Homo sapiens: one gene and its partner. The protein of the gene in region 2 purifies or fractionates together with the protein of the main gene of each other region. This does not show direct contact. Each region holds a gene or a part of one and is shown on either strand. Other genes may lie near its edges.

Region 1 (3,752 bases), on a different chromosome or scaffold from region 2:
GAGTTCAATATCAACCTGGGCAACATAGTGAGACCCAGTTTCTACAAAAAAAAAAAAAAAAAAAATTAGCGGGGCATAGTGATGTATGCCTGCAGTCCCAGCTACTTGGGAGGCTGAGGCAGGAGAACTGCTTGAGCCCAGGAAGTTGAGGCAGCACTGAGCCATGATCATGCCACAACACTCAGCTTGGGCAACAGAGTAAGACCCTGTCTCAGAAAAAGAGAAAAGGAAAAAAAAAAAAAAAAAAAAAGAAATGAATGCTCAGAATTAATGTAACTTGCCCCAAGTCAGCTTGTTAGCAGCAGAGCCAGGAGAATTCTGGCTCTAGATCTACCCGTCATCAAATGCTGAAAGCTTCCAAGAAGAAGAAAGCTCAAGGCTTTTCCTCCAAAAGTAGTCATTAGCACAGAGGCAACAGTTGAGGCCATGAGACTGTGTAACTAATTCTTTGAAGGAGAACAGAAAAAGAATTCCTAGCAGATACCCATAATTAATTAAAAAGTGAAAGGAAGAGAGCCTAGTAAGAGACACCAAGTTGACAAGAATATGCAACAGGGGAGGGGGAAAAAAAAATCAAAACCAGAAAAGTGCAGAGTCAGGAAAGCCAAAAATGGAGTAGGTACTCAGTGATTTTAAATGCCAAAGTTGGAAAAAGGCGCGGATTTGGCATGAAGATATCACATTGTATGTGTGAAATTTTTTTCAAAAATTTAATTCTTAAAACATTAGCGAAATTTAAAAATTCCTTTGAAATGTTTATGACTAGCAACATCCATTTGGTACATTAATAAGGGGGACTGGATTTTTCATATATTACACTTCTTCAATGTTGAAAAATTACAAAGGCTAAGAAAATAAAACATCTATTAACTAGCCTTGTAGAAAAGTAATTTGATCTTTTAAATACAGATCAACTATATATAGTTCAACATAACCAGATGAGTTATTGCACTTTTTATTTGCTAAGAAAATATTTTCAGCTTTTACCTACTCCACATTTGAGAAGTTTTTGATATACATAAACAATAGTTTACTATACTTTTTGCTGCAATCTATTTTGTCAATTCAAAGGTTCAACAAAGGAAAAGAGACAGTTATACAAAGGCAAAACTACATGCATACCCAAAGCAAAATTACATATGAAGTAATTTACCAAGTTTTAATAGTAAATGTTATTAGAAATAATATGGGCAATCTTCTGATCATATATTTAACTTCAATCTTAAGTGGGAATTAGTACGCAGAGAAAAGAGAACTATTTTATCCTTATCCTAACACGAGGGATATAAAATATTTTTAATTCAAATCAACATTAATTAGTGATATATGGAGAACACAGCACCATCTTTGCACAAATCAAGTTTTAGACCCTTGGAAATAATATTTATCTTAGAGCTTTAAAACATTTAACAGGACTGCCAATGAATTAAAAGTTTAAAAGACGCAAATGAGCAAATCAAAACAACTTGCTACTGACCTTGTTCAAGTCTGAAGAGGGTCTTTTCCAGTTTCTCCATTTCGTTCAGAAGTAAAATTCGAATCTGTTTACTGTGTCCCATTTTGGCTTCTAGAGGATTTGAAATCTTTCATAAGAATTAAAAGAACTCCACAGTCGAATGAGTTACCCCTATGAAACAAAAAGGAGTTAAAATATCGAAAATAACTATTGCCTTAAACTCTCCAGAGCTGACAGCGGCACTTACATGTTCGAAGTGTGTTTTATGCCTAGCAGAGCAATGAAAGAGAATGAATCTTATAACTATTAAGATTCGAGAAGGCAAATTAATAGTTGTTTCCTGCCTTTGAGCACAACGAATAAGACCGAAATAAAAATGCTGTATTACAGATTCTTACAATTAAAAAATTAAAAACCTAGACCATTCTCAGAGAAAAGCAATACACTTAGGAAAGCCTGAAGTCAGGGGGACATTCCCAGCCCCAAGCCACAGGGCTCTGGAGACTCCGAATGGCACTTCTGCTTACAAGAGATTAGTCTGCTCAAAGATAACAGGTGGGCAATCTCCCCATTCCCAAATTCGGGTCGCCAGCCACCAATGGGGAGATGAGAACAGAGGGAAGCAGTTGTTGCCTCTGGAATAGCTGCCGTAGACAGAAGATGTACAGAGCGAGCTATAGATAGAAAGAATGCGTTTCCCCGCGAGGCCAGCGGCATTCCTAGCACTTACGCCGAGGGAGTTATACGTGCGGCTTCTGGGGCACTGCAGGACCCGCGACTCTGGTGCTACGGTCGGGGGGAGGGGACGGGGAGAAACAGAAGGGGAAGGGCTGGCTGCCCAGCCTCGCACAGAAGCCGCAGCCCAAGGAGGGCCGGGCGCCGTGAAGGGCAAAGGGAGGGGCGGCGAGCGACCGGGGCAGCGCCGAGGCAGCTGGGTGAGAAGCAGGCAGAGTCTCAGCGACTTCGCCTCGCGCGGGTTCCTGGGCGCACCCGGTACCCAACCTGGCCGTGCGCGCACTCGCCCCAGGTGGGAGCGGACCGTACCTCTGGCCCACTTCCGGGAGGCTCGACCCGCCCGCCCCGACCGCTAGTCTCGCGAGAGCGTGGGCACCGCACCGTCTCAGTCGGCTCCGGGCCGGGGGACCTGGAGCCTGCTGCGGCTGAGGCCGGGAGCGGCGCTTTCTCCTTGCCCTGGGGAAGGTGCACCGGCCAAGGCGCGGCCTTCCTTTAACAGCCTGCGAGCTCACAGTTGCACATTAAAATCCCGCGGTACCGGCTGCGAGCTAGGTTGAGCTGCACAGTAGGATCTTTTGCTGGGAAGGGCTGAATGGTGAGGGGCAAACGACCTGGCTTCTGGTGTCTTTTGTGCCACCACGTGTTTTGTTTCTTTGTTTTGATAATTTTTACTTGGCCTAAGTTCTCAGAGTCCTGATTTCTAAGTGTCTAAAATAAGGGGCCTGGCTACAGCCTTGACATTCCAGCCAACACGTGTCCATCACTTCTAGTGCTAACAGACAGGACACATGTTCCTGAATGCAGACCCAGTAGGTAAGGTGTGGCCAGTCTGCAAACCATCGAGAGTGCAAACACCACTGATACTTAACGGTGTCCGGGTGTACCTCATGTACACTAGATAGACCCGGAGATCGTCTGAGATTAAGCTGCACTTATGTTAGGCCAGTAACTCAGAACTTTTTGCAGATGCTTAAGGAGATTTAATGCCTGAGGGTAAAGGAAAACCCATCTTCCAGGGCTTTTGGAGGGCTCCTAATGGTTATGAGAAAATGGACAGAAGATTTGGTTAACTAAGACTTGTGGCGTGTGGAGAAGATTCTTGCATTCTTTATTGTGGAATGACTGTAGGTCCAAAGAGGATATAAGTTAAAAAAAAAAACCCCATACTGAAGTATTTGTTTATTTCTGTAGATTTCTGAGAATGGCTAGTTGCAAATGGTCCGTAACTGACTTTGGGAACCCACAGCTCATTTTCTGGCCCCTACTATTTGCCAGGCACATAAGGTGCTGGGAATGCAGCAATAAAACAGTCACTGCCCTCAAGGAACTCCTACATTTTATTGGTGGGAGACAGATAAATTAAATAAATTATACAGGATATAATATATCCTATATAATAAGAAGGATATGTTATATCCTATATATAATAGGAAGGGGGAAGTGTGGAAGAGTAAGCAGAGAGAGGTTTGCATTTCTAAATATAACGTTCAGTAAAGTGATGCCAAACTGCGAGAAAGAAGAAGTCTAAGGTAGAGGGTTACATGTAGAGGTATAGGAAGTA
Region 2 (3,652 bases):
CATTTTAGAAAAAGATATAAAAGGCAAAATGATCTGTAGAAACTAAACATGATATCTGGCATGGGATAAAAACTCAGCATTTACTAAATGAATGAATAATTGTATAATTAAATACACACAACTCTTAAAATTAGCCTTGTGTTTCTTTATAGGTCACAGATATATTTTTGCCGAATTCTCTTCAAATTTTGGGGCTTTACTGATTGATGCTTAATTTCTATGCAAATATACTAACGATAGAACCCGTTTAGTAGTTTTATCTCCAGTTTCATATTACAAAAGTAAAAAATTTTAATGAAATTAGTATGAGGACTAGATAAAAAAATAAAATAAGAACAAGAAAAAATAGAGAAAAAAGAAAGTTTTACTCTTTACTATTGATTTCCAAGTCAAATTTAATTATAACAGAAATGTGGGAAGATGCATGTTAGCTTTTGAGGACTACACTCATAACAGTTTAGGAAGGAGCTTTAGACTCACAAACTCACAGGTTTCTAGGGGAATATAAACTTACAGAATAGCAAAGAGTTAAAGAAAGATAAGCCCATGAAAAGACAACTTATTAGTAGACGTGCCCTGATCACAAGCTAATGTGATATAATGATTTTTAAAAGCCCTATCCTTCTTCTGTAATTCTATGTCTAGGAAGAAGGCCGGGCCTGGTGGCTCATGCCTGTAATCCGAGGACTTTGGGAGGCTGAGATAGGTGGATTGCCTGAGCTCAGGAGTTTGAGACCAGCCTGGGCAACATGGTGAAACCTCATCTCTACAACAAATACAAAAACTAATTGGATGTGGTGGTAGGCACCTGTAGTATCAGCTACTTGGGGGGCTGAGGTGGGAGGATTGCTTGAGCCTAGAAGGTCGAGGCTGCAGTGAGCCATGTTCATGCCACTTCACTCCAGTTTGGGTGATAAAACAAGACTCTGTCTCAAAAACTAAATAAGTAAATAAATAAAAGAAATAATCAGAGATGTAAAAAAAGATGTGCATGTGAGAATGTTTATCTCAGCTGTGTTTAAATTGCCAAAACATTAGAAACAACATAAATGTCCCAAAATAGGAAATTTGTATAAGACATTATTGTACACATAAAAATGGAATACTACACAGTTATTAAAATTCATATACTTGAAGAATATTTAACATTATATGTAAAGTGTTAGTTTAAGTATGATGTTTATTTAACCAGATATGACTAACCACTTTTAAGGAACTATGATGGATTTTTCCCCCAACTTTATTGAAGTATAGTTGACAATTTAAAATTATATGTATTTACCATGTACAACTTGATAATTCGACATATGTATACATTGTGAAATATTCACCACTATCAAGCTAAGTAAACTATCCATTCTGGCACATAGTTTATCTTTTTTGGGGGTATAGCTATTTTAAAAAACAGTACAAAGGTTTCTCAAAAATTTAAAAATAGAACTACCTTATGATCCAGCAATCTCACTTCTGTGTGTATATATCCAAAGGAATTGAAATCACTATCTCAGAGAGATATCTGCACTTCCATGTTAGTTGCAGCAGTATTTACGGCAGCCAAGATATAGAAACAACCTAAATGTCCATTGACAGATGAATAAATGAAGAAAATGTGCTGTGTATTTACAATGGACTATTAACCTTAAAAAAGAAGAGAATCTTGCCATTTGTGACAACATGGATCAACCTAGAGGACGTTATGCTAAATGAAACAAGCCAGGTACAGAGAGACAAATATTGTGATATTTATCTGTGGAATCTAAAAAGTTGAAGTCATAGAAAAAAGAGTAGAATGTTGGTTGCCTGGGGCTAGGAGGTGCTGGCCAAGGGGTACAAATTTCAGTTAAGCAGGATGAGTAAATTCTGGAAATCTAATGTACAACAATGTAACTGTAGTTAACAATATTGTATTGTATACTTGAAATTTGCTAAGGGTGTAGATTTTAAGAGTTTTCACCACCAGTAACAACAAGAAAAGTGAACTAAGATGGACTTTACAGAGGCAAAGCTTACAAAGCCCTCTCAGGAAAATTAGCTTAGCATCTACCTCTTAGGACTGAGCAGGCCAGGAACCTTGGTGACCTCGAGAAGAGAGAAGATTGCCCAAATGTACAGGAAAGCAGGTAGAACTTGGTGAAGAGAGTTTCTTGGCGTGGGAAGGAGCAGAAATTTGAAAGAGCAATTCATTTATCTGAATCGTCCAAGCAGTGGCTTCATTACCTAAGTTATTGTGTCTGTCTGCATGAAATCAATAGTTTATTTTCCATTAATTAGTGAGTGGTGGCTCCTGAGAAAGGTGAGGCCAGTTACAGACAATAAAAAAGCTACTTTTGGTTTGTGCAATTGAGTTGTAGGGTGAGTAAAAAACGTTTTGACTACATTGATTACCTATAGTAACAATAAAAATAATATCTCCAGACTTTTAAAAAGTATTATTTTTTTTAACTTTCATTTTAAGTTTTATCTTAACGTTTGTTATATAGGTAAATTGTATATTGCAAGGGTTTGGTGTACAGAGTATTTTATCATGCAGGTAATAGGCATAGTACCTCATAGGTAGTTTTTCTATCCTTGCCCTCCTCCCACTTTCGACCCTCAGGTAGGTCTTGGCGTCTGTTGTTCCCTTCTTTGTGTCCGTATGTACTCACAGTTTAGTTCCTACTTGTAAGTGAGAACATGGGGTATTTGGTTTTCTGTTCCGGTGTTAATTTGCTTAGGATAATGACCCTACAGCTCCATCCATGTTGCTGCAAAGGACACAATCTCATTCTTTTTTGTGGCTGGCTAGTATTCTATGGTGTATACGTACAACATTATCTTTATCCAGTCTACTGTCATTGTGCATTTAGGTTGATTCCATGTTTTTGCTGTTGTGAACAATACTGCAGTGAACGTACGTGTGCATGTATCTTTATGGTACGGTGATTTATATTCCTTTGGGTGTATATCCAAAAATGCGATTACTGGATTGAATGGTAATTCTGCTTTAAGTTCTTTGAGAAATCACCAAACTGTTTTCCACAGTGGCCGAACTAAGTTACATTCCCACCAGCATTGTATAAGCATTCCCTTTTCTCCATAACCTCGCCAGCATCTGTTATTTTTTGACTTTTTAGTAGTAGCCATTCTGACTGGTGTGTGAGATGGTATCTCATTGTGGTTTTGATTTGCATTTCTCTAATGATTAGGGATGTTGAGCATTTTAAAAAGTATTATTCTTATGCATATACACATAAATATTCATATACAAATATATATGCATATATTCTCTCCAAAAATATTCATTCCTGGCATAATGTATTTTGTTCAACATGACAAACAATCCTGTCTGGTGCTCAAGTCAAATTTTTTTCCCTTCAAAATTGATTCAAATAATAATGAGTCACTGCATTTTTTCATATCTTGTTTTGAAATCATGTACAGGCCATTGATTTCTTTCTGTTGGAGGCAGTTGAATATAACGGTTGAACCTTTGTTCAAATGCCGACCTGCCTGCATTAGCTGCCTGGTTAACTGTGTCTGACGTGTCACAAGTAGTCAGTAAACATTACCTGTTATTATTCTGTGATTGAACTCCTGTGGAATGGGAAAGTAGGATTCTAGTACTTTTTGAAAGTTTTAGTTCTATTCCTTACCCTTGAATATTGACCCTGAC

Evidence for each region. Proteins that work in one complex are often made in the same cells at the same time.
Region 1: the proteins of ASB15 (region 2) and AGL purify together in Homo sapiens (affinity purification with mass spectrometry, with the first as the bait; one large-scale study listed by BioGRID). This does not show direct contact.

The regions. Positions count from the first base shown.
Region 1 is NC_000001.11:99,848,850-99,852,601, reverse strand, and holds the start of AGL (glycogen debranching enzyme), read right to left. Parts: upstream 2,242-3,752; 5' UTR 2,187-2,241; exon of another isoform or gene 1,984-2,186; intron 1,982-1,983; exon of another isoform or gene 1,704-1,981; intron 1,628-1,703; 5' UTR 1,560-1,627; coding exon 1,478-1,559; intron 42-1,477; exon of another isoform or gene 1-41. UniProt on the Homo sapiens protein: Multifunctional enzyme acting as 1,4-alpha-D-glucan:1,4-alpha-D-glucan 4-alpha-D-glycosyltransferase and amylo-1,6-glucosidase in glycogen degradation.
Region 2 is NC_000007.14:123,604,786-123,608,437, reverse strand, and holds part of ASB15 (ankyrin repeat and SOCS box protein 15), read right to left. Parts: intron 1-3,652.